Linked DNA regions of Homo sapiens. The protein of the gene in region 3 interacts with the protein of the main gene of each other region in a pairwise test. Each region holds a gene or a part of one and is shown on either strand. Other genes may lie near its edges.

Evidence for each region.
Region 1: the proteins of SH3BP4 (region 3) and TTC1 interact in a two-hybrid assay, tested with the Homo sapiens proteins (one study listed by BioGRID and IntAct).
Region 2: the proteins of SH3BP4 (region 3) and CEP78 interact in a two-hybrid assay, tested with the Homo sapiens proteins (one study listed by BioGRID and IntAct).
Region 4: the proteins of SH3BP4 (region 3) and PLEKHA1 interact in a two-hybrid assay, tested with the Homo sapiens proteins (one study listed by BioGRID and IntAct).

The regions. Positions count from the first base shown.
Region 1 is NC_000005.10:160,033,122-160,040,149, reverse strand, and holds part of TTC1 (tetratricopeptide repeat protein 1), read right to left. Parts: intron 5,011-7,028; coding exon 4,950-5,010; intron 3,460-4,949; coding exon 3,347-3,459; intron 1-3,346.
Region 2 is NC_000009.12:78,239,052-78,246,079, reverse strand, and holds part of CEP78 (centrosomal protein of 78 kDa), read right to left. Parts: intron 6,058-7,028; coding exon 5,885-6,057; intron 5,789-5,884; coding exon 5,716-5,788; intron 4,385-5,715; coding exon 4,281-4,384; intron 2,619-4,280; coding exon 2,444-2,618; intron 1-2,443. UniProt on the Homo sapiens protein: Centriole wall protein that localizes to mature centrioles and regulates centriole and cilia biogenesis. Involved in centrosome duplication: required for efficient PLK4 centrosomal localization and PLK4-induced overduplication of centrioles.
Region 3 is NC_000002.12:235,038,997-235,046,024, reverse strand, and holds part of SH3BP4 (SH3 domain-binding protein 4), read right to left. Parts: intron 5,138-7,028; coding exon 2,778-5,137; intron 1-2,777. UniProt on the Homo sapiens protein: May function in transferrin receptor internalization at the plasma membrane through a cargo-specific control of clathrin-mediated endocytosis.
Region 4 is NC_000010.11:122,377,704-122,384,731, reverse strand, and holds part of PLEKHA1 (pleckstrin homology domain-containing family A member 1), read right to left. Parts: intron 1-7,028. UniProt on the Homo sapiens protein: Binds specifically to phosphatidylinositol 3,4-diphosphate (PtdIns3,4P2), but not to other phosphoinositides. May recruit other proteins to the plasma membrane.

The DNA.
Region 1 (7,028 bases), on a different chromosome or scaffold from region 3:
CTGCCTATAGTAATTCAGTGCAGAAACATGCTGTACAGGTTTGTAGCCCAGGAGCAATAGGTTATACCATATAGCTTAGGTGTGTAGTAGGCCATACCATCCAGATTTGTGTAAGTATACTCTATGATGTTTGCACAATGATGAAATCACCTAATAACACATTTCTCAGAATGTATACCCGTTGTTAAGTGACTCATGACTGTACTTTAAAATGGCCAACTTTATGTTATCTGTATTTTACCACAATAAACAAAACAAAAAAGGTTTCAGGGTCATCTGGGACCTTTTTTTATTTCTCTTTCAATGTTCAGCATACCAATTCAAATATCAAAAACTCTAAGAAGTCCTGTAAGTAATCTGTATAACTTTATATAAGTCAATATTTTTTCAACTTATCACATTTCTATAAGTCAAAGACACACAATTTCACAGTTTCTGAAATAGAAATAAATCTTTACAATTTATGTGTACAACTGTTGTGATGGTATTCTTTGTGTGCCTAGAAGTGATTATTAAGCTGTAGTGCATCTTATCCACTGTCTCCTCAAATCAAGGAATTATGGAATTTTATTGCAGAAACTTTTGTTTGAGGCTCATAGTCTACTAATACCTCAGAGGACCCAGGTGTTGTCTGCTGCTTACAATGGTAGTCCCCAAAGTGGAGTGTGTGGGAAAAAAAAAAAAATCACAACTTTACCATTCTTTCATAATTTTTATATATAGGTAGCTATCTATCTATATAAAACAGTATACATAATATATAGTGACAAAACAAATGTACACAGCATATAAGGACAAACAAATCTAACTATACATATAAAACAATGTATATAATATATAAGGACAGTAGTTAAAAAAAAAAAAAAAAAGAGAACCTACTCTTTTAGGGCTCTGCTCTTGTATAGCTAGCGAGACCTAGAGCTGAAACTCTGCCCTAGCTCCAGGTTACCTTTTCTCTCTCCAGATATGAAATGTGAAGCGTGGCCAGGGGCACTGAGTCAGGGATGCTGAGCTTGCAAACCTGCCTTTCAGAAATTCTTCATCTTTACCTCTTAAAGCAGTTAAACCATCATTTCCTTGAAAAACTTAGAATATAATATGCTCCTTAAATTGTGTCAGGGTACTAATCCTAGAAGTTATCAAGTCTCTCATTTTAGAGTCTTCATAAAGTATTAAAAATGCAACTTAAGGCCGGGGACGGCGGCTCACGCCTGTAATCCCAGCACTTTGGGAAGCTGAGGTGGGCGGATCACGAGGTCAGGAGTTTGAGACCAGCTTGACCAACATGGTGAAACTCTGTCTCTACTAAAAATACAAAAATTAGCCTGGCGTGGTGGCGCGCACTTGTAATCCCAGCTACTCAGGAGGCTGAGGCAGGAGAATCGCTTGAACACGGGAGGCGGAGGTTGCAGTGAGCCGAGATCACACCACTGCACTCCAGCCTAGGTGACAGAGTGAGACTCCGTCTCAAAAAAAAAAAAAAAAAAAAAGAAACGCAACTTAAAAGAACAGAAAACTTCACCAACAAAACTATTCTTTGAACAGGCAACAATCATAGAGCAACGCTCTTTTGAGTTCTCCTCAGATGTGACAGACAAAATACTAACAAGACCATACATTTTCCTAACTCAAGAACCAGACTATTTATGTGAGCCCAAACCTAGAAATATCAATAACTTGGGCAACTGTAGAAACAAAGAATCCCAAATCCCAGGAGCCAACTGGGTATGGTGCATTTCCTCTGATACTGAAGGCACATCCTTGATCCTATTTCACAATGACAATGTCCAGTCTAAAAATGTGGCAAAAGGGAGAAGCAAATCTAAAAGATCAGAATTTTCCAGGTAAGTGTAAAAACTGTTAGATGTTAATTCTGATTGCTGGTGGGACACATTAATGAATATTGTTTTAAATAAAGTTAAACCAATTGTTTTGTTTTCTCTAATACAAAATGTTGGTTTGTATACTATAAAATTATTTCTTCTCTCATGCCACATGAAATACTCCAAAAATACTCTGCTTTGAAGATTGAATCTTACACAAGTTCTGGTAAAAAAAAAAAACCGTAACCTTTCTGCATGTCCAAGCATTCAAGCACCCACCCCCGCAACCCTGCCCTGGGGCCTTTAAAAAAAACAACAACAACAAAAAAAACCTTGTCACCTAAAGTGACTGTGGTAGAGGCATTTGAGAATTTCAGACAGTATCAAAGAGATATCTGATCTAAACAAACAAATGAAAACACTGCCACTTCCAATCTTGAGCCAGCATCATGGTTGCTTAAAGGTATGTTAAATAACCTATCCTTTGTACTTTGGATGTAAGTAGCCATAGTTTAAAAAGTGGTATGGTTTAAAAAAAAAAAAAACCACTCTCATTTCAATCCAAGGATTATGAAGACTAAATCGGAAAATCAGACAAATCAGAAACAAATCTAACTTTTTTTTTGAGACAGAGTTTTGCTCTTGTCGCCCAGGCCAGAGTGCAGTGCACTGCAACCTCTGCCTCCAGGCTTCAGCGACTCTCCTGCCTCAGCTTCTTGAGTAGATGGGATTACAGGTGCCCACCACCATGCCTGGCTAATTTTTGTATTTTTAGTAGAGATGGGGTTTGACCATGTTGGCCAGGCTGGTCTCGAACTCCTGATCTCAGGTGATGTGCCCGCCTCGGCCACCCATAGTGCTGGGTTTACGGGTGTGAGCCACTGCATCTGGCCCAAATCTAACTTTTAATAAGGTCATGGTATAAAACAAATATATTTGTACTCTCACCTATTCCATACTCACCTTGTTATACTAGGTTCTCAGTCCTTTGGAAATACAAAATGTTTTCAAAGTTCCTTGACACCTATTTTGCATTTAAGGGTACCTTTTATCCCAGCTGTTGGAGATTTCTCCAAGTGTCCATACTTTGAACAGAAAAGTCAGAATCCTGGGAATAACCATCTTTAAAGATGCTTTAAAGCCCAGAGTTTTTACCAGTGTTTCCCTGTGCCTTTGCATGTTTATCTAGAATTCCAGAGGCCTAAAATAAGGATCTAGAGCTATTCTAGGACATGCACTGCTTGGCTCATTGCTTCATTAACCTGACCTAGTTTAGCAAAAAATTTGCCAGCCCTCCTTCCATGAAAGTATTCACTCAGCTACTTTAATGGGGAATGTTAACAGTAATCTGACTCAAGTTTTTCAAAAGATTTTCTATTCTCCCTGTGGCCTTTACATCAGGGAAATATATGGGCAGGAAAAGGGAGGCAGCAACCTCTATGCTAGTTTCTGGAGAGAAACTATGGTATGAAAAGACTGCAAGTCCATGTGCTTTTTAAAAAGAAAAGGTCACAGATACATACCTGTTTCATCCTTGCTGCAGCTCTATTTGAAAATAGAATCGACCTCTCCTTTTGGAAGCAGGATGGGCACATTTCGAGGGCTCGACTATAAGAACTTTCAGCTTCTATATAATCTGAGGATAAGAGAAAGGATGAATGGTCATTTTGATTTTATTCCTGATACTACTATATTCCACAGGATCTCAGAAGCACTGTTTTCCATTCATAGGATGAAGGTTTTGAGTTAAAAGATGGTAACAGTCTATTAAGTCTGGCGCAGTAAAAATCATTTCTTCTTTTCTTCTCTCTTTAAAGGAACAGTGCTTGCTTGTGCCAATCTCACAGGCTGTGCTTGGTGAACTGACAGCTGAACATGCTGTCAGTGACAAGCCCTCAATACTCAGGAGTCCTGGCATTCCCTCAATGTTCAGTTTTCATTTGGCTGGGCAATTCAGAAAGGAGTTTTCAAAGGAGGTTACAGAACTGGACAGAGGAAAGAGACTAAACTCTGGGATCCATGGCCTGAGATAAAGAAAAAAATTATACATATTTGTTTTCATTAAATCTGTTGTGCTTTCATACAGTCAACCTGGCTAAAACAGCATCCGTGAAATGTTTGAAGAGAGACATTTGATAGAGCTAAAAGGAACAATGTAAAAATCAATATTTAAATCAAGACCTTAAAAGAGAAAATGGTGAAAAAGAGAATTATGGTCAGGATACTAATAGAAAATTGCCTATGTACTCCTTTCTCAGGTTTGAAATATTTAATATTAACATACAAAAAATATGCTTCCAAAATTAGAAGTGTTTATTCTATTAGAAAACAGTATTAATGATTACTAAACCAAGATATAGGAAAAAAAAAAAAACCCTAAAATCTGAAATCAGGTAATAGGGTAACTTTTGGAAAACAATAAGAAAAAAATTAAAAACCTGAAAATAACTAGCGGAAAATGTTAACACTCCTAGATTTCTGAAGCATATACACTTTAAGATGTGACAGAAGACTTTTGCTCTAAGATCAAATAGTTACCCCAAATTATCAGAATGAACCCCACCAACTTATTTCTAAGCAAATGTAGAAAATGCAGAAGGACATGAAGAATCTCCCTACTTAAGGCATCCAAAGAAAATGGCACATGAAAGAGCAACCTTTCTGAAGCAGTTTGGAGAATTTAAAAAAAGAAAGAAAGAAAGAAAGAGCAACCAAAGGACAGGCAGCCCTAGGCCATACCAGAGCAGTCAGGCTGCTTTCACAGCCCCACAGCAAGTGAGGAGCGGCGACTCTGCTTTCACAGCAATGCAGCACATAACCTTTAATATTCCAGGTTAGTGTTTTCCAAAGCAAGAGCTCAAGAGTTTTACCCCTGATTCTAGACTAACAGATAGTGGATTACAGAAAGACTATGCATGTGCCAAGAGACAAATGGTAACTGGTCACCATCAGATGAATAATTTGGCCTGGTTAAAAACTCAAAATGCCAAGGTACTGGGAAGCAACACTGTATTGTGAAGTCTGGTTTTGGGGTTTCTTCAGATGTTCTTTGGGGTTTCTTCACAGACTCTACAACAGGATGAGGAGTCAAGATGACCAGATTATCAGTGCTGAAAGTCGTCTTACCTCCTTTCTTAAACTGTTCATTTCCCTCCTCCTTTAGTCTAGTGCTCTCTTCTCTTCTTTTCTGAAAGACATCAGAGAATTACATAATTTCTCACAATATTATTATAAGTGAACAAAAAGGTGAGCTTTCCTTATGCACAAGTCTATTTAATAGGCAACAGTCTGACTTTTGAGAACTGCATCAGTTTCACCAAAACCTTGTACAGTGATAGAGGAAAAAAAACACATGACCATCAGGCTAATTATCAATTGCATTCTTGATGTTTAAAACAAAAAATGTAGGTCTTCTTGGCATGTCCTTTGCTTTCTATGTTTCTATCTTTTGCAATGGAATGATAATTACAGTATCACTTAATTTCTACTTACTCAGAAATGAAACTAAATAACATACCCACTGGTGTGCATACCAGTGTAAATTCAAATTGTAGCTTCTAGTACTTACTAGTTATGTGGCCTCGGACAAGTTTCAGAATCTTTCTGAGCCTTAGTTTCTTCATTTCAAAAATGAAGCTTTAATAGTATTATGGACTACTGTTTAATGGATTAATGTCATAATATACATAAAGCTGCCCATACAGTGACTAGCAAATAAGGGCTCAATAAATAAGCTATTATTTTCTGTGAAATAAGTACTTTAATCCTTATAAGAACCCTTCATGGTTTGTGTCATGAAGGAGACACAGTATGCTAGGAGAGCACATTTGTGGGTACAAGCCAAGTCTGTAGGGTTAGGGCAGTATACTGTTAGCAGGTTAACATAGGAAAATGTGAAGAAACCTAAATAAATAAGTCTGTCTTTTCTTAGCTTATTCAAACAACTCAGAAACTCACATAGATGGCCAAAAACTCATCAAACACAAAGGCTGAGAGAATGTTATCCTGCAAAGCAAAGTAGACGCATGCTGAGTGTGTGCACTTTTTTGTGGAACATCTTAACAATATAACTGGCACAAGCCAAACCAGAAGAGTCTGTATGCCTGCCACCTTTTGACAGTGCTTTAAAACAAAAACAACAAAAAAACCCCAAAAACAGAAAATCTACCAAAGTCCCTTAAAAAAAAAAAAAAAAAAAAAGAGATAGGGTCTCACTATGTTGTCCAGGCTAGAGTGCAGTGTCTATTCACAGATGTGATCAACACACACTATAACCTTGAACTCTTGGACTCAAGTGATCCTTCTGCCTCAGCCTCCTGAGTAGATGGGACTATAGGTGCACACCACTGTGCTGGGCTCTTTCCTCCTTCTTGAAGCTTCTGATTAAGTAATTTCAAAGGGAGGAAATACAGTTAGCATTCTGATTAAGTAATTTCAAAGGGAGGAAATACAGTTAGCAGGGTATTTCATGCACAAGAGAAGCCTGGAACCTAAACAATTGGTCCTTTTAACATGAGGAACTGATATGATCTGTGTTCCTACCCAAATATCCCCACGGGTCAAGGGACGGACCCTGGATCATGGGGACGGTTCCCCCATGTTGTTCTCATGATAGTGAGTTCACTTTCATGAGAACTGATGGTTTTCAAGTGCCACACTTTAAAACCATCAGCTTTCTCTTCACTTTCCGCCATGATTGTTAAGTTTCCTGAGGCCTCTATAGCCATGTGGAACTGTGAGTCAATTCAACCTCTTTTGTTTATAAATCACCCACTCTCAGGCAATTCTTAATAGCAGTGTGAAAATGGATTAATACAGGAACCAAAATAAAAACATTCTTTCTCTGGAAAAGATTTGTCAATATGCTATTGATGAGACCGGGTATTTCCCAAATGTCTTATTATTACACTATGGATTAAACAGAGCACTTGATGAATCTCAGTGAGGAAACTAAAAGGTAAGTATAGAGTGAATCTAATTTTTATGGTACATACTATGTGCCAGACACACAGCAGGTACAAATAACAATTCATTTTAAGATATAACGTATCTGAGGGAAGGGCTATTCTAAAGGAATTCAGAAAAAAATAAAATATAAGAATATGGCCATATTTACCTAGTACTACCCATAAGAAAGATGCTTAGATTGTAATGATCTCTACTGTATTGATTAGGGTTACTGGATGCAAGCAAAAGACTATCTTA
Region 2 (7,028 bases), on a different chromosome or scaffold from region 3:
TCTACATAAAACATCACAGAATGAATATTTGTTCATAATTAACAAGGATGCTAGTGGCAGTGTAAACATCACAGGCAAAAACTGGGTGGAGCTCAGAAATTGCACTAGATTCATCATCAAATTCAAATTCAAATTCCAAGTGACTCTCAAAAAATTACATTAAAAAAGTGAAAAGAAAATACAAAAATGTAAACTGTTAGTTTTAGAATAAAAATGACAAAGAAAGAACTCTAAGGAGATAGAAATAATGAATCCAAAGAATGTGTGAATAGAGATTATAGAGATTATATACTAAAAACCTATCATGAAAAAATAATGGTCAAGAACTCTCTCTCAAGTAAAAGGTCAAAGAACTAAACAAATGCTCATGAATACTAGTAATACTGAGGCTGAACAATCTACTCATTTCAACTCAAAAGGATTATCACAAAAGTACAGGCATAAAAAAAGATTACATCAGAGCAAAAGCACGTGTATACCATTACATTAAAATAACTGAAGTCTTTCAGAATCTCATTTTATGGACTACATGTCTGTATTCCCCAAAAATGTATATTGAAACCCTAATCCACAACAGGGTAGTAGTATTAGGAATTGGGGCCTTTGAGAGGTAATTAGGTTTAGTTGAGGTCTTGAGAGTGGAGCCATCATGGGATTAGTGTCCTTACAAGAAAAAAAAGAGACTAGAGTTCTCTCTCGCCACCATTTAAGGATATAAAAGCCTTCCATAAGCTAGGGAGAATGCCCTCACCTGACACCTATCTACTGGCATCTGGATCTTGGGCTTCTCGGACTCCAGAACTGTGAGAAATGAATGTCTTCTCTTTAAGCCACCCAGAATATAATTCTGTTATATGCTTCTATAATGGAGTTATATAATATATACTATATATAATATAGAATATTCTATGAAGCCCTAACTGACTAAGACACCACAAGACACACAGAAATAAGTCAGATATATGGATCTGATAGAATATGGTAAAACCTTTACAAACTCTTGCTGCAGAAGAATGAGCATAGGATGTAATTATCCACCTAGCCAAATTAATAAAAATAGCCAGTAAATCTCACTAGTAAATCAAATGAATATAAACTAAAACAATTAAATGTGATTATGCTTCTATCAGATTGGCGAAGGTCACATTTTAAAAAAACCTTTAAAATGTGCAGACTCTGTTAACACAGCAACTCTCCTTCTAAGAATTTACCAGAAGGAAATTATAAGAGACACGGGCAACAACACGTATCAAAGTACTGTTTATAACAATGAAAAACTGGAAATAGCTTATATATCTAATAGGAACGGATAAGCCAAGTGTACTATTGCATATTAACATAATGGAACCCTGAAGAGTCACTAAAAATGACATGGTAAATGTAAACTTACTGATTTAAGATATGCTAGACTGAGTGAAAAAAGCTGTAAAATTCAGAGACCAATCCCATTTGCATCAAAAAAGAAAAAGCAGGGGAGTTCTCATTTTTGTAAAGTTTAAGGTTTTAAAATAGACACAATCCAGCATTTATGAGACTATAATATGGCACAGCATTTCTGAAAGGCAATTTGGTGACATGCATCAAAAGTCTTTAAGAAATACATTATACTGAGTTACTCAACTTTAGTAATTTATCCTACAGGAGTAACTTCAGGCTGGGCACAGTGGCTCATGCCTGGAATCCCAGCACTTTGGGAGGCCAAGGCAAGAGAACTGTTTGGGCCCAGGAGTTTGAAACTAGCCTGGGCAACACAGCAAGACCCTGTCTCCACAAAAATTAGCCTGGCATGGTGGTGTGCACCTGTAGTGCCAGCTACTCGGAGGGTATAGTGGGAGGATACTTGAGCCAGGAGTTTAAGGCTACAGCGCGGTATGATTACACCATTGCACTCCAGCCTGGGCAACAGAGAAAGACCCTGTCTCAAAAAAAAAAAAAAAAAAAAAAAGTAACTTCAATGGACACAGAGATGTATACATAAGGAGTTTACTACAGAGTTGTTTATAACAGGGGAAAAGCACAAACTGCCTAAATATCAAATAGTAGGGAATTAAACTATTATGCCTCAATATAATAGAGTACTACATGATACATCATTAAATAAAAAAAGCAGGGTTACAAAATGGTAAGTGCACTATAGTTCTGTTCTTGTAACTCTAAGCACACAAATGTATCTGCAGGAAAAAACAATACTGAAAGTGTATACACCAAAATGAACAGTTTATCTCTAGGCATTGAGATTATATGTACTTTTTTTTTTTTTGTTACTTGGTATTTTCTATAAAGAATATATATAACTTTTATAAAGGCTTAAAAACAAAATAAAACCTATTAGAAAAAAGAGGCTTTTTAAAAAACCTTCGGACAACATTACTGTGCCAAGAGTTAAGCATATTTAATATCAAAAAATTCAATATTTTCCACCTTACAAGTTCATTTAACTTACCTCTCAGCCATAAATCCTCACTGAGAGAGTCTGCAAAAGCACATGCACCTAGGTCACCAATAAGTGTGTTGCAATTCAGTGTGATACGTCTTAAGCCAGCCATACAGTCAAGATCAGGTCTCCTATAGCGAAGACTCTCAGCCCAGGTTTCTTCATGCCTTCTCATGGTCTGATACTTCAAAGATTTAATAAGATGAAATTAATACACTTGGATAAAGAGATAGGAACACTAAAAGGAACTAAGTACAGCTGATTACATCAGAGCTTTACACACACACCAGGTACATATGCCAGGTGGGTTAATCTGACAGACTGATTAAATAGTAGATTTTGAGTAAGGAGTCCAGTGACCCAGATACTAGTCTGTCACTGACTAGCTATGTGACCCTAACCACTAATGACCTGTTACTGATTGCTTTATGTAAACTGACAACTTAGTTAACTTCTAAGAATTTTATTTTCTTTATATGCCAAGTGAAGGTACTGGTTCTAAATTCTATCATTGCTGAGCCTCTAAATCATATCATTCTGTCCTCCAGTGGTCTCTAAACACTTGACTGGACATCCCACAAGTAAACATTTAACATGTAAGTTATTTATTAATAAACTATATACAGGAATTTCTATATACATATTTTATGTATATTACAAATCAAACAGAAACAATAGGTATTTTTTAAATGATACAAAAATATAGAGGTTAATATTTTCTTCTCCTAACCCAAGGGATCTCACATATTTCTTAGGGTATGCACACCAAATTTAGAGGCCTAGAATATACAAAGCAAGGTTGATATGCCTTCGGAAATTGGTGGTTTGAGTTTTAACCACAGGTATTATCTTACAGACATAATCACTTCTCTTTATCCATAAAGTAAATTTCGGTAACAGGAAACACTGATTTTAAGAGAAAAAAAAATCTCATTACATTCTGAAACAAAAGATTCAAAGCTCCTATGACTCCGTCAAATGAAAACTGTCAGTGTCATTTGCTATTCATAATAACTGTATAAAAGCAATAAGAGGAAATAACAGCAAACACTTAGATAGCCAGGCACTATTTTATACACATTAGTTCATTAAATCCTAACAATGACAGACACAGTAGGTTTTCTTATTATACACATTTTATGGATAAGAAAACTGAGGAACAGAGCGGTTAACTAATTTGCCCATGGTCACAAGTTATTAAATGGGAGAGAGCTCGGGTTTTAGCCTAGGCCATCTGGCTTCAGAATCCACATGAGTAACCATTATCTATCCCACGGAGAGTGGGCTTACGCTGTAAAGGCCCCAAAATAAACATTTTCAGCTTTGTGGGTCATATAGTTTCTTTTGCAACTACTCAACTCTCCTAGTGTAGGGTGTAGCAATAGTTAATATGTAAACAAATGGGCATGACTATGTTTCAAAACTTTATTTACAAAAATAGGTGATAGGCTAGATTTGGTCCACAGGCCATAGTTTGACTACCCCGATCTACACCATCAAATTACTAAAAAGGCTTCATGTCACATTATTATGTAATTTTATCCTAAATACAGTAGTAATAACCACTATAAAGTTGTTAAGGCACCTTTAAAATTACTGTTTTACAAACTGTATTTACAGAAAAATCTAATTATTATATTTTAGGTCTTCTATTTCTAAGATTAAGCATACTACCTTTAATAAATGGTAGAACCCCAGGCTGAAAATTGGTCACATTCTTTAAACAAAACTAAAACTGCAATGCCCATATGTATCAAAAGACAAAAATAACTGCTGTCTTGTATCAAAATATTAACGTGTGGCAATCATATAACACATTTTCATGAAAGTTGGAACATAAAGTTACCTTTAAGATCTTGGCCATGTGATCTGCTCCCTGCCATGTCAGATTACATCCTGTGAAGTTGACTGTCTTAAGAGTGATAGAGCTCTTTATACCTTGACAAATAACTAAAATGGAAAAAAAAACCACATACAATAAGATGAAGAGCATATACAACCTAGTCAGTCTTGATTTATTTGCTCTTCTTATATCTTTTCTATTTTATAGTTGTATTCTTAAAATCACTATTTACAATCTACCTAAGCAACTGATTGGTACATTCTAAAATAAGTCAGTAACAAAGAGTTACTCCAGTTTATTGCAATAGTTCAATTCTATTTAGATGCCAAAATTGAATAGACTGAATATTGCAACCTTACTCCAGACCACAGTAAAGTTCTATATACTTTTTGAGACATCTGAAAGAAAAACATAAAAAAAATAAAACTCTTCCTATTTTCATTTCCAAGAGCAGACCTCAATCTGTTATTAACCAACAATTCAGTGTCAACTATAAACCCAGAATTTTATTAGGTGTTATACTAGAGCACCTAATGTACTAGAACAATAGAAGACAGAGGCCTTTTAACTCTCTGCTCCCTCAAATTGAAATGCAGGTTTCCTTACCCCTCCAGACCACTATTTCACACAACGAACACAAGACTTCAGGATCCCAACGAACAGTCACCTTCTGTGACTATTTCCATGATCCCAACCCTTTCCCCCCAAGTCTGTCAGCCTTTTATATGCTCCTATACAGCACTTTGCTTATATTTCCTATTTTGGAACATACCACAGTGCATTAAAATTGATTGTATATATGTTTTAATTATTTAAAGTAATGATGATTTTTTTTTTTTTGAGACGGAGTCTTGCTCTATCGCCCAGGCTAGAGTGCAGTGGTGTGATCTTGGCTCACTGCAACCTCTGCCTCCCAGGTTCACACCATTCTCCTGCCTCAGCCTCCTGAGTGGCTGGGACTATAGGCACCCGCCACCATGCCTGGTGAGTTTTTTTGTATTTTTTTAGTAGAGATGGGGTTTCACCATGTTAGCCAGGACAGTCTCAATCTCCTGACCTCATGATCCGCCCACGTCGGCCTCCCAAATTGCTGGGATCACAGGCGTGAGCCACCACGCCCGGCCTCTTTACATTTTGCTATTTCCTTCCCATAAATATTTCTTGAAGAAAAACTCTAAAAGATGAACAAACACAAAAAACAGAGAATACCAGATGGTATATATTTGTGTGGTCTGTGGTTTAACACAAACTTAAGTAAAGTTAGTTCAGATTACATTCAGCATGCCAAGCTTTCATGGTAGACTTGAGACTGGACCAAGGTTTGAACAAGCATATGAGGCAGTAGTAAGAAAAAAGGTACAGACAGGAATTAACATGGCATGTAGGGAAACATGAAACCAGCCTGATAGGACAAGAGTTAAATGAGATTTAAACTCACTTTCTAAACCTCCATCTCCAATTGGACAATTTGCAAGAGACAGGTGCACCAAAGAAGCCGATTTATTCAATCCCTTTAATGAGGGGGAAAAGTTAAAAATGTTATTGAGGTTTTTTTTCCTCTAAAAGCAACTATCAAATGTCTACAAGCCAAATGAGACAAAGCTTACCTTTGCTAGAATAGTTAAATCCCTCTCTCTCAGAATTAGTCCATTTAGCTCCAGGTTCTTTAGCACACTTGATATACTTAAACAGCCTTTAAGAGCTTTACACAACTGGAAGGTCACATCTTTGTATCTTATCGCAGGAACACGACTTCTGCAAAATTTATTCATGTCAGAACCTAAAACAAAGATAAAAGAAAGTTAGTGACTTCAATCATACAATGTATCATTCAAAAACATCTGCTCTGTGCTAAGACATAGAAATGAGCCATGTCCTTTAAAGTCCTCTTAAGCACAGACACATGTAAACTCAAGCCACATGGGATATACCAAACTATGTACATAGAGGTTCTTATGGAAGCAAAGAAGTTGCACTGAAAGGATGGCTTCAAGATAATCCTGAAGCTGAATCTAGAAAGATGAGAATGACAACATGGGGTGAGAGTGGGTGATGCATTAACCAGAGGGAGCAGCGAGAGCAAAGGCATCTAAGCCTGACACCTGCCGGGCACTGGAAAACTGCAGGTGGATCCGACTAAAGCCCAGAGCCGTAGCCGGAAGAGTCAGAAATTTACAAAGAGGCAGGGAGAAGCAAGCCTAGGAGAGTTCACTTTTACCTCACAGGTGATGAGGATCAGGGCTACCACTGACACATTAAGGATACCCCTAGCAGGTTAGAAAAATGTGCCTCACTGTTGGAGTATCAAAGAGATAAAGGAAATGAGAAAAAGCTCCCCTTCCTCAAGACCAACTAACCCCAGGAGGCTTAACAGAACACAGCTGAGATTTCAGTGCCTCTGTGCAGAACACAAGCAACCAATACACACTGGTCCTGCGTGGGCATGCCACTTTAAGCATGTCTTTTCCTTTTTGAAAGATCACTTGAACCAAAGTAGGCAGATGAACTGAGAAAAACCAAGCTCAACGGCAGCAAAACTAGCTAGGAGCGTCTGCAATAGTCCAGGCAAAATGTAATTAAGGATGGACAAGCAATATGTAGGAGGTTAAAATCTACAACCTAGACCCACTAGATGCAAGAGATAAAGAAGGTTCAGTGAAGAATATCTGACGAGAATGGTCTGTAATACATTTTTCTTACATTCAGTGCAAAATATTAGGCAAGATCTAGTAGGCTAGCCTTGACTCTGAG
Region 3 (7,028 bases):
CACGACTTTGTGGGGCAGGGGCAAAGGCTGACCCCGTTCTAAAGGCAGTGGAGAGAGGAACAACCCAGGTCTCATTTGACTCCTTTTTCCTTCCCATCTCCCTGCACACTGACTGTCTCAAACTCTCACATTTTCCCCATCATTTAAACACTGTTTCCAACCCAAGGCATCAGAACAAGGACACCGAAAGCTATGCTAAAAATGAGAGGCAGGGGGTGGCCTGGCTGTGACTCTCTGGGAGGGGCAGGTAAAGCGGTGGCAGAGGCCGCAGAAATCGTGGCAGCCCTGTGATGACAAGCGGAATAGAACAGCCAGTTTTCAGGGTCTCCTAATAAACGACCTGGGAGAAATCCGTCTGTGGTTTCTATAAGTTTGGCCAAGATGATGACTGACACAGGTGTGGGGGGCGGGTGGGGACACTGCAAAACCAGTTTCACTTTATCACCACAAAATCTAACCTTGCCTCAGGGAGCCGACCTGGCCAAGGGCAAGTTTCACTTCCTCCTTTCTGGGTAGCGGAAGGACTCGGGCACAGAGGACACACCCCTCCCTGGAGCGGACAGGGAGGCCCACCAAAAAATCCCCTCCCAGAGATGCTCACCAATCGAATTGAGAGAGTTTGATCATTTATGTCTTTTGGAAAAAGATAAAAAAGCAGGAAAATGAGTGTAAAAGCCACCTACTCGGCGGTTATTTTCCACAGCTGGTGTGGTACTCCTGGTTGTGTCATTTTTCCACCTCTGGTGCAACGTCGAGGTGAGTGTCCTGGGCTCAGCAATGCTGTCAGGTTCCACGACAGCATGCACAGCCACGGCTGTGGTCTCGGGGCCGCCCGCACAGAGGCTCTCACGGGATGGAGGCGCTTTGTCTGCCACTGTGCTGGGTGCACCCGTGAGGAGACCAGGCCACGGCCCGGCACCAGGTTCTGGAGAGCCAGGAGGTGTGCTCTGAATCACACATGGGTGATGGCTGATGGGAGGGACGCAGGCCATCCCCTCCCTGCAGGTGACCCCACATGGGGGCCCGGAGGCTTCCCTGCTGCGTTTGTTCGCTTCCTCCCCACCCAAGTGCAGTGATTTCCTGGTTGCCAAGGTGGCCCCCCTGACGGCCGCTTCCAGTTCCATCTCCCTCCCCTGGGCAATCTCGTGGCTCCATGCTTCTGGCACTGCACACGACTGCAGGCCACCCAGAGAGGGTCTCACCCGACTCCTGCCCCACTCCTGCCGGGCTGCGTCCCTTCTGTCTCCTGGCTCAACATGGGCAGCCGAGCCGGGTATGTGCCACATGTGACCCTTGCCTGCACACCTGTGTCTACAGGACACTCTGGGCTCTCCCAGACAAACAGGGCTCAATCCAGGGGAGCCGGGGAGGTGGCAGAAAGGCCGGGCACCAAGAAGCACGCCTCTCAGAAGCTAGGATGCAAGAAAGCCTGCGGGCTCAGAGGAACGAGGAAGAGCGGCACACGCCAAGGTCACAGGGTTTTCCCACAGGAATGAACACCAGCAATGCGCCCCTCTCCGGAGGATAGGGGTGGACTCCGTTCTATCACAGGGAGAAGTCCACAGGGACTCTCCACCACAAACACCCCTGGGGATGCCAGGACACGGATATGGCTAAGCCTAGCCAAGGTAACCGCCAGGACCCAGCTCTGCTGACGGTGGGGCTGCCTGCGGGGAGCAGTGCTAAGAAAGCGTTGAGCAAATGCTCCCCGGTTGGCTCGTGGGCCAGGGCGTAACCCACAGTCTGATGCTTACTTCCCCCTTTTATTTCTTTGGATTCCAGTTCACGGTTGTGCTGGCAAAACAAATGCTGTCCTCGCCCCAACTCAAACCAACACAGAGGGGGAAGTGGAAACAATACAGAGATGTTAGAAGCTTCAAGGAAGCAAAGGCAAGAAAAACTCACATTACAATGAACACAGGCTTTGGGGCAGCGGTTCGTGGGACTCTGGAGTCAGAGACCCTGTTGGGAATCTAACGAACCACATCTGCTCCCAAGAGATCTAAACTGAATGGCGAGAGCACAGGCCGCCTTCTGCCCCCACCCGCATCTGGTCCATTCTGGGACCCTCTTGGAGCTCACAGATTCGGTGGGAAAAGTAACTGGAATGCTCTTCTTTGCAGGGTCCTTGGGTTGTCTGGGGCCCCCCAGGATCCCCCGTAAACCCCATCTCCACTTCAAGCACACTTCAAGCCCCACACGTATATCCCAGGCAGCGGGACATCAGCCACAGACACTGTCCTGGTGACTTACAACACCACGGCCCACGCCCACGCATATTGGGAAGGCGAAAGGCTGTGCTGAGCCGCACCTATCTCAGGCAGCGGGACATCAGCCACAGACACTGTCCTGGTGACTTACAACACCACGGCCCACGCCCACGCATATTGGGAAGGCGAAAGGCTGTGCTGAGCCGCACCTATCTCAGGCAGCGGGACATCAGCCACAGACACTGTCCTGGTGACTTACAACACCACGGCCCACGCCCACGCATATTGGGAAGGCGAAAGGCTGTGCTGAGCCGCACCTATCTCAGGCAGCGGGACATCAGCCACAGACACTGTCCTGGTGACTTACAACACCACGGCCCACGCCCACGCATATTGGGAAGGCGAAAGGCTGTGCTGAGCCGCACCTATCTCAGGCAGCGGGACATCAGCCACAGACACTGTCCTGGTGACTTACGACACCACGGCCCACGCCCATGTGCACTGGGAAGGCGGAAAGGCTTTGCTGAGCAGCACCCCTGAACGCCCAGGCACCTGCTGAGCACTCACCATCACAAGCTCCTTCTGGAAGGACTTCCGTTCTTTGTTCTCAGTGTTGTTACAGTCCTCCTTCAGCTTTTCTAGGACGGACGCCACCCGCTCGGGCTCACTATCCAGCTCTGCCCGGCAGAAAAAGGTGAGCGGCAGGTTCACGTAGCCCAGGGCGTCAGCGAAGGAGCGCCAGCTGCTGATGTTCTCCATGAGCAGGGTCCTCACGGAGGCATAGATGTACGTGAGGAATTTGCAGGGCCGCAGGATCTGCTCCAGCAGCACCGAGGTGCTCAGCTCGGGGCCCGAGCACAGGCTGGGCCGGGCCCTGCCGACCACCAGCACGTTCTTGGTGTGCACGAGGCCCACCCTGCCCTGGTAGTAGCCGATGTACCACTCCTTGGTCCACAGCTGGCCCCGGAGCCTGACCCGCTCCTCGCTGAGCAGGGCGATCCCGTCGCCCTTCTTGTACTCCAGCAGGTAGTGGTTCTTGTTCTGCCGCACCACAGTCTTGAGCAACTTACCAAACTTGAGGCTGGACACCGGGCGGTCCTGGAAAGTCGGGTACTTTGTAGTGGTGGCAAACGGGGACAGGATGATTTTCCCGACTTCGTTCTTCTTGAGAAACCTCCTTTGCCCGGAAGGCTTGATGGCACTTTTAGGGGGTGGCTGAGGAGTCTGGACACAAAACTGGGTGAGGATGGCCTCCTGGTCGTCCTTCACCTGAACCCGCAGCGTGAAGTCAGAGAGCTCGTTGGGGTTCTGGGAGGTGATGGGGAAGATCAGGCGGCTCACCTTGCCCAGCTTCAGCTGGAATCCTCGCACCACTTTGGCCTGCTCGCTGGCTTTGACCTCGTAATTCGTCATATTGGAAAACATACAGACCTTGAGATCCTGGGGCCTGGACAAAACGAACTGGTGCTTCCCCCACAGCTGCAGGGCCACCGGGGCAGGGTTGGGTGCCTGGCGTGTGACCTCGCTGACCAGGAGCGTCTTTGGGGCACAGTCATGCCCAAAAATGGTCACTACCGTCTTGAAGGATGGGTGGATGTGTTTAGGGCCGTAGAGACCCACTGTGACTTTTTTATTGATGAAGTCCCACACGGTGGAAGGGTAGAGGATGCTTGGGCCATGGGCCACGACAGCCACGTACATACAGGGCTCCAGGTTGTGCAGCTGTGCCTGGACCGTGTCCCCACAGCTGCAGTTGAGCGGGACGGAGACATATGGCCCTTCCTTCGAGTCGCTCCTCAGGCACTGGAGGCCCACTGTGCTTTTGCTAAAAAGGTCATTTTTTATCTCGGCTGACACTTTCATCTCCAAGATGATAGAGGTTTTCACCTCCAGGTTGCTCAGCTTGACCTCCAGCACAGGGCTGATGCTGCAGGACCTGTCACTGTTGAGCTCCAGCGGGGGGTCCAGCAGGGCTTTCATGGAGATCTGCTGGGTCTCCCCAGGGGCGACGTGGCCCTCGGGCACGTGGATGCTGATGCTGGTGTCAGGAAGCTGGACAGCACCCCCGGAGCTATCCAGCTTGCACACGATGTTTGTCTCCACGGCTTGGGTCTGGCCCCAACCAGGGCTTTGGCCAAGCAAGTCCAGGTCGTGGCAAGACCGGGCCAGCTTCCTGTGGTTTAGCCAGGCAGTTCGAAAATCCTCCCGGCTCTGAAATTGCTCGGGGGCAGGTGATTTCAAGCCGGTGAAGAAACTCGACGATGTGGGAGCATCGGACTTGGCTTGGAGGACGGAGAGTTCCGAGAGACTGTAGGAGCGCTTGCTTCTGAAGAAGGGGTTGTCCCGCCTGACCGGCGGCTCTGCGTGGAGTCCGTTTGTGACTGGAAGCTCATCGAAGATGTTGCCAGTGCTATTCGTGGTGGCTGAGCTGGATTCGGTGAAGGAGGATGTACCTGCGTCAAAAAGGAGCAAATCCACAGTACTTTTGGGATTCAGCTCATCCAGGCTGGGCATGACGGGCACGTTCCCATTCAGAAATGGATTGGTCTGGACCCCATTCCAGAAAGGGTTATTACTGTACATTCTGCCTGGTACTTTTTTGTCATCTGTCCATCCCCCGAGCAGCTCCAGCTCCTTGGCTACCTCGTCTGGGCTGTCTGGAAGATTATCAATCATACCGCTGTCACTCAGTGTTGAGTTCCGGTAGTTCAAGGGCTGCACATAGGAGGAGGGGATGTAGCCCATTTCGGTGGTGTTGTGTGCGTACCACCACTCACCGCCAGATGTGTCCAAGACGTAGAGATGGTCGCCCTTGGAGAACTTCAGTGTGGTGAAGTTGGTGGGGCAATAGTCCTTGATCGCAATCACTTCCTTTGCATTTCCGAAAGGTGTGGGGTTGTCTACGAGCAAGGCACTGGGAGAAGGCACTGTGCAAAACACAAAGAAAACAGATGGTGAGGGCAAGGCCGGCGGGGTGTCCGGAGAGCTTCCCAAAGGAGAGAGGACGGTGGTAAACAGACAGGTGCACAATAACCCAGGCAAGTCACCAACAGAAACAAACCAAAGTGAAATTCAGTAGGTAATTTACCTGGCCAACGAACTGGTTCCTGCTACTTGGTCACCTTCAAAATCGACAGCCTATGTCCGGCAGAAAGACCACAGAGGAGCCTCTCCATCACTCACAGAAAGGCAAATCAGTGCAATGGAATATTTAACATGCCCTACGCCCTAAACATCTCATTTTGGGCAACGTTAAAATTCTTCTTAAAAGAACTGCTACTAGATACAAAGAGAAACTGAATGTGATTAACTTAGAAAACACGGTGACACGGTGAGTTAGGTGACCACTGCATGTGATCAGGGACTGGAAATGAACAGATTCCAAAAACTCCCGCAATGACATGTATGAGCTGATTCCAAGCTCTGCCTCTGGATGGAAAGCTTCCCTCAACCTGCTTCTTAAATTTCCAAACTCAACCTGTTCCTCACCAAACTGTTTCCTCAGATAAAGTAAGAATTCTGAAGTCAGTTCCTTCCAACCTCTTTTATTCTTATTTTACTTATTTATTTATTTATTTATGAGACAGTGTCTCACTCCGCCACCCAGGCTGGCATGTATTGACATGATCTCAGCTCACTGCAACCTCAGCCGCTCAGATTCAAGTGATTCTCCTGCCTCAGCCTCCAAAGTAGCTGAGATTACAGGTGTGTGCCACCATGCCTGGCTAATTTTTGTATTTTTAGTAGAAATGGGGTTTCATCATGTTGACCAGGCTGGTCTCAAACTCCTGACCTCAAGTGATCCTCCCGCCTCAGCCTCCCAAAATGATGGGATTACTGGTGTGAGCCACTGCGCCTGGCCCAACCTCTTTTAAATTATCATTCAAAATCACAACATGAAAACAGACTGTCTACATACCTTGAAAATGAGAGATTATGCCTAGTCATAGCTCATACTATCATTGAACAAGTGTTGAAGCAGTCTGAAAAATTCCAACCCTTCAAAAAGTGAATCAAGTTAATTCATGGCTCCTGCCATTGAACTCTGTATGTTACCAATGTAGACGGCAAATGAAACAGCAAAAATAAGTCAGCCAAACAAGTGGTGTGTTTTGAAAAATAATGGATATGATTAAATGAGAAGATATATTCAGAAGATGAAGAACACTCTTTCTGAAGAAAATAAGCACATATACTTCTCCCCAGGACTCCCCTCCCCCACCTCCCAAACTGCCTCACTTACGGAGTCTGCTGACATTCTGGCTTCCCGTAATAAACAATTGAAAGAAAGAAAGGAAACGTTTCTTTCTTTCTTTCTTTCTTTTTTTTTTTTAAGTTGCCAAAGCAAATGACCAAAGAAAGGAATCCGTTTTTAGTTAAACTAAACCTACATCTTTTCTAATGTGATGAAGTCCACAGTCATCGTATTCTATCAAATTGCCCCCCCGACCCCAGAAAATCACCTGCCAGTTTCCTTTTCCTTTGAAAGGAAATAATCACACTTCCTTGGGAAAGTGTTAGGAAATCAGGTAGACAGTTTCTATTCATTTACATTAACTGGGTTACAGAGATGCGCTTAGCTGGGAGCATCCCTGGGCCTTGAAGCCCCACCTACCTCCTCCTGTGAAATTACAGCAGGCCCGTCTATCTGGGTGTCTCAGAGAACCCGGCTCTGGGATCACTAAACCCAGACTCGAGTGGAGCCCTTAGAAACTGTGTGATCTCCAGAGCCTAAGACTCCACTCATGGTGGACAAAAAGTGTATTTCCTCAATGAGCTTTGGAGAGGACAAAATGCAAAGACGTAGATAAGGCACTT
Region 4 (7,028 bases), on a different chromosome or scaffold from region 3:
ATCCACCTGCATTGGCCTCCCAAAGTGCTGGGATTACAGGTGTGAGCCACCACACCTGGAGCAGTAACAATTTTAAAAACTCATTTATAAATGACTACAAGTCATTTTTTTTTTTTTTTTTTTGAGACAGAGTCTCGCTCTGTCACCCAGGCTGGAGTGCAGTGGCACGATCTCGGCGCACTGCAGGCTCTGCCCCCTGGGGTTCACACCATTCTCCTGCCTCAGCCTCCCGAGCAGCTGGGACTACAGGCGCCCACCACCTCACCCGGCTAATTTTTTGTATTTTTAGTAGAGACGGGGTTTCACCGTGTTAGCCAGGATGGTCTCAATCTCCTGACCACGTGATCCGCCCATCTCGGCCTCCCAAAGTGCTGGGATTACAGGCGTGAGCCACCGCGCCCAGCCAAATAAAGTTTTTTAAAAGCTTTCCATGGCAAAAACCTGATAAGCAAAGTCAAAGCCAGTAGAAAATATTTGCAACTTATATCATAAACAAAGGGCTAATCTCCCTAGCATTTAAAGAGCTTGCAAAAAATGTTAAGGGAAATATATCAAACGTTCAATAGAAAAATGAGTAAAAGACATGAACATTGTACCAAGAGAGATATAAAAATGGCCTTTAAATATATGATGAGATATTCAGTATCACTCATAACAGGACAAATACAAAAAAACCATACCGAGATGTAGCCATTGCCAATGACATCCCAAGAACAGAACAACACGAGAGACTACCACAGGGATTCAAATATCAAAATCTATACAGTAAGAAATGGCTCAGGAAAGATAACTGGTTTCTTTAAAATTAAATTCAAAAGCAGGAGAAGAAAAGGAACTAGAGGAGAAACCTATGAATTAAAAAAGACTTTAGATATCTGGACCAATCACGACATGTGGATTTTATTTAAATCCTGTTTCTTTAAAAATAAAAACAAAAACAAACAAAAAAACACTGACATACTTAAAATCGGAAATTTGAATATTGTCTGATGATATTAAGAAAACAGACACATTATTTTTGGTGTGATAACGGCATTGTGATTGTTACCAAAAAAAGGAGGAGTCCTTTTCATTTAGAGATATTTACTGATATAAAATAAATGTTATTTATCTGGGGCCAGGCATGATGGCTCACAATTGTAATCCCAGCACTTTGGGAGGCTGAGGCAGGAGGATTGTGTGAGCTCAGCAATTCAAGCCTACAAAATGACAAGACATTATCTCTGCCAAAAAAAAAAAAAAAAATTAGCCAGGCATGGTGGTGTGTGCCTGTAGTCCCAGCTACTTGGGAAGCTGAGGTGGGATAATCGCTTCAGCCCAGGAGATTGAGTCTGCAGTAAGCTATGATTGTGCCACTGTACTCCAGCCTGGGCAATAGAGCAAGACCCATTCTAAAAAAAAAAAAGAAAAAAAAAAAACAGAAAGAAAGAAAAGAAAAAAGCAAGAAAGAAAAGAAAAAAATGTTATCTGGGATTTGTTTCAAAATAATTTTTAGAGAAGGGAATAAACGGAGGCACTGGTGGCAGGGTTGGTAGTTGCTGGGGCTAAATGATGGTGTTCATGGGATTGGTTACACTATTCTATTTTTGTGGATGTTCACAAATCTCCATAATAGAAAAGTTTTTTAAATCTATACTATACAGATATACCATTTCTCATCTATTAGACTGGCAAAAATTCAAAAGTTTGACAACACACTATACTGATGAGGCTGTAAGAAAACAGAAACTCTTACATTGCTGGCAAGAAGGCAAAATGGTAAAACCCTACTGGGTGAATCTGGTACTATTTAACAAAATCATATATGCTTTTATCCTATGATCCAGCATTCCTACTTGGTACTGTAATGTGAAACATTTTAGGTATAACAAGACTTCCAGACCATTATAATGTACATTATTGGATAATGTAAATATGTTGATATGATTATATTTAAAATAAAAGAAAACATTTATTTGTTATTAGGAACCAAGACTTTCACAGTGAGAGAAAAGAGGTACAAACAAAAAACAAAAGAACAAACTGTGTACAATACATCTGAATTAGAAATAATATGAACTACATCATTTCTGAAGATATGACAGTAATAGAAAATCACCACTTTGTAATCCCAATGTCTCACTGATTTACACAAGCATCTTCAATGAACACTAAAACCACTAGATGAAATGCTGTTAGGAAACAGAATATTCATAGTCTCAAAATATCACCCCACAGTTTTGTTACTAATTGCAAACAGGAAATGTATCTTTACATTGGAGAGATCTTATAGCCCCCACCTTTACCAAGTAACTTGGTATCTATTGAATCTAGAAGCTAGGTACTAATGGATACCACTTCTCTCTAAACAAACCAAGTATAGTATGATTCCACTGACATGAAATATGCAGAATGGGCAAATCTATAAAGCTAGAAGGTAGATTACTAGTTGCCTAGGTACAGGGGAAATGAGTTGTTGTCTAAGGATAGGAGGGTACAGGGTTTCTTTGGGGATGATACTAATATTCTAAAATTGATTGTGGTGTTGTCCACGTAACTGTGAATGCACTAAATCATACATTTTAAATAAGTGATTTATATAGTGTGAATTATCTCAATAAAGCTTTTTCTAAAAAAAGAAACGATTACAATTGTCTTTCATTCTAGAGTACATAAGAAACCCTAAGGAATATTTCATCTCCCAGACCTCTATTGTTGGAGTATCCCAGAGGGTGGTCTGTGGATCTCTTTCCTATATATACTCAGTGTCTTGGTGAGGTTACTCATTCTCACAGGCCTAAATATTGATGACTTCCAGACTGTTATCTCCAGCCTTGAACACTGTTGACCTCCAGACCCATGTATACAACTGCCTATTCTACGGTTCCACTTATCTAACAAGCTATCTCAAACTTAACAAACTGAGCTCCAGATATTCCCCTCAGAATCCTGATCCAGCCTTCCCTAGCTCAGTAAAGGGCCACTCCCTTCTTCCAGTTGTTCAGGAAAAGTATCTTGAAGTCATACTTAAGTTTTTCTCACCCTGTGGTAGTCCGTTCTTGCATTGCTATAAAGAACTACCTGAGGCTGGGTAATTTACAAAGAAAAGAGGTTTAATTAGCTCACAGTTCCACAGTCTGTACAGGAGGCATGACTGGGGACGCCTCAAGAAACTTACAATCATGGTGGAAGGCAAAGAGGGAGGAGTTACCTCTTACATCGCAGGAGCAGGAGGAAGAAAGAGAGAAGAGAGAGGTACACACTTTTAAACAACCAGATCTCAGGAGAACTCACTCACTATCATGAGAACAGAAAGTAGGGATGTCTGTCCCATGAACCAACCGCCTCCCAACAGGCGCCTCCTCCAACACTGGGGATTACAATTCGACATGAGATTTGGGTGGGGACACAAATCCAAACCATATCCTACCCCATGTCCAATCCATCAGCAAATCCTGTTATCTCCATCTTCAAATTATAACCAGAATCCTACTTCTCACCACTTGCTACCTCTCTGGTCCAAGTGACCATGACCTCCCACCTGGATTATTGCCAAGGGCCTCTCCTGGATCTGGCCCTTACCCCACTTCAATCTATTCTCAACATGGCAGTCAAAGTGATCCCATTAAAACATTTATTCAAGTGTTCACTCAATAAACACGTACACATATTACTACTCACAAAGCACTTTTCTAAATACCTAAATATTAGTTTATTTAATCCTTATAACAATTTTACAGATGAGAAAACTAATAAGGCACTTGCTCAAGGTCACATGCTTGGGAGTGGCAGTGCCAGGAGTCAAACTGGAGGAGTCTGGCTCTAGAGTCACACTCCTCAATACTATGTAATACCTCACTCTGCTCAAAACTCTTCAGTGCAATAGATGTCAACCTTGGCCACTTATCAGAATTACCTGGGAATTTTAAAAATTCCTGATGCCTACGTTAAAACACCACCTCCCCCACCACCGCCGACCAATTAAATCAGAAATTCTGGGATGGGATCCAGGCATCAGTACTTTTTTAAAGCTTCCCCAATCATTCTAATGTTCGGCCAAGGTTGACAACCTGTTTCAATGGGATCCCATCTCACTCAAAGTAAAAACCTAAAAACCAAAGCCCTCATAAAGACCACTAAGCCTCGTCTGCCCTGTTACCCCATCCCAATACCCACCTTACTCATTCATTTGGCCGCTGGACTCACCAGACAAGATTCCCACTCGGGGACTTGTAACTCAAAGTCACGTTCTCAGTGAACACTGCCTTTTAGATCTTATCTAAAATTGCAAATCCTCCAAACCGTTTTGCTACTTCCACCTTGGTTCCCCATGTTATTCTTCTCCTTAGCATTTATTGATTATCTAATGAATGATACAGTTTACTTATTTACCTGATTCTTGTCTGTTTCCCCACACTGTAATGTAGGCTCCATGACAGCAGGGATTTGTTATTTACTGTTGTTTCTCCAATGCCTAACACAGTGGCTGTCACATGCAAGACCCTCAGTAACTATTTGTTGAACGACGGATGAAGTAACCCATAATTACTGCATCAAAGATTAACGTTAAGTTTCCAGATAGAAAGTTGTTTCTTCCTCATCAGACAAGAATCATTTACCAGATTTAACTGATTTATTTAAATAATGGAAGGAAAAAGTTTCAAATACTGTATTTCCACTTAAATTTATATTTTTAGTGAAACTTACATGAGGCAAAACCAGACACAATTATATTATTAACATGCCTCCCAACCCAAATTTCTCCTTCAGCTTTACTCATACTCTAAGGTATAGTTAGATCTTACAAATCAGTCATAAATTAACATAATTACAGTTAACACCTCATCAGTCAGGAACCAGGAAGCCAAAAAATAAGGCAAAACACAGAAACAGCCTGAGTGATATAAGAAAAAGCAAAGAAAAATTAAATTCTGTACAGTGAGACCTCAACAGGCCCACAAGACTTCACTATTATTTGTTAAAACATGTCGAGTGGGACTAGTCCTGTTGCCCCACAATCACTGACAAACACAAAGCTGAGGATATATAGACATAGAGGATCAAATATCTGTAGAGTCAGGCATGGCTCTGGCACCCTAATCAGCACCATCCTTCCACTCTGCAAGAGCAGTTGACAGAAGAGAGGGAAAGAACTGTAAGTCTTCAGGGAGAACGCAGGGAAAAGAAGGAGGTCTTCACCAAAACAGTGGCAGGGGCCTCTAACAGAAATCACTCATGAAGATCAGAGGAGCCTAGAACAGACTTGCATCCCATTCTCCAGTTCCACATCTGCTTATGCAGCAGACTGAGTGACTGACCCCATGTGTCTACTTGAAAAGGGGGACAAAGAGAATTGATGAGAAATGGCAGGGCACAGAAAGAAGGCAGACTTAAGTAGTCTGTATGCCACTATTCGACATCACAAGGAAGTGAGTTTCCAGTGGGTTGAATAGAAACCACAGCGTACCTGGATTGAAGTTGTTTTGCCATTATCAAAATATCTCGCTGCAGAGAGAAAAGATCTCCACCCCGACTCACACACATTCACGTAACCAGTGGGTAAACTGACAGGATGGGAGCAAGCAGATGGGTGTGTAGGTTGGAAAAGGTTTAGCTACAGAAAATTTCATACCCAGAAACTGTGCAGCAGGAGTCTCCCTGCAAGATCTCACCAAAAATGCCAGTTTGGTTGCCTATTAGTAGACTGCAATGGCCTGCCACTGTTAATCAAGAGAGGACTCTAATAGCACCAGATAACAAACACTTGTCTTTTTCTACTTCTCTTCTTGACACATTTGTATCCAAATAGATCCCTTAAGAGGGAAAGGAAAGAAGTATCCCAGGAGCTTACCACAAGCCGTCCATACCCCAAGTGCTTCAGTAAGTAAGTGGCCTGACCACAGGGTAAGGAAGGGAAAAAAAACCTTTAAATTGAATATATATGAGATTGAATGTTCAAACTGGAATAGACTGCAATTTTTTGTTTTTGTTTTTCTGTTTTTTTTTTTTTTTTGGAGACAGGGTCTCACTCTCCTGTCACCCAGGCTGGAGTGCCACAGCACAGTCTCTGTTCACTGGAACCTCTGCCTCCCAGGCTCAAGGGATCCTCCTACAACAGCCTCCCAACTAGCTGGGACTACAGGCACATGCCACCACGCCCGGCTGATTTTTCTATTTTCTGTAGAGACAAGGTTTCGTCATGTTGCCCAGGCTGGTCTCAAACTCCTGGGCTCAAGCTATCCTCCCACCTCGGCTTTCTGAAGTGCTGGGATTACAGGCATGAGCCACTGAGCCCAGCCTAGAGCTTTTTGATAACTGTAAATGACAGAAAAGCTATCATTTACCCATGATGTTATGGGGGGTGGGGGACAGGGGGGTGGGAAAGAGCCTACAAAATACAGTTAAAGGCAGTGAATAGTGAAAATTAAAACTCATTAAAACTCTTGTGTTTGTTCTCAGTAAGCTTGGACTGCTGAATAACCTGATGACATATGCAATAGCATTCTCATCCTTAATAATGGGAGGGAACACCTGACATGGAAATTCTCAGGAGGGATTTACTGTACCGGGTAAGATGCTACATTAGAAGCCCTCTGACATCACTTCCAATTCTAGTGCCTGTGATCGTCTTTTCCTTCAAGAGGTTAAATTCAATCCAGAATCTAGAGTTCAATGGTTAAACCATAAAAGGCTAGGCTGCCTAAAGGGCTAAAAACCACAACTTTCTGGAGAATAAAGCTATCAGACTGACAAGCCTGGTAAGAGTTCCATGTAGGAAACAATATTTTGCTCTAAAACTTATTTAACTTAAAAAAATCTTAAATGACTAATTTTCTTTTATATCCAACAGAAATTCCAGTTCAAAGAAAGCTTATAAAATCCCAAAAACCCTATCTTCCTGAATATTATCAATTCAACTAATTAAAAGGCTTACTAAAATAAATAGCAAACATATGTTTGCTTAAGCATCTTCTAGGAATCACAAACTCACATATCCCTTATTAGACAGTACCCACAAGAAAAAAAGTTACTTAGGGTCAAATGGTTTA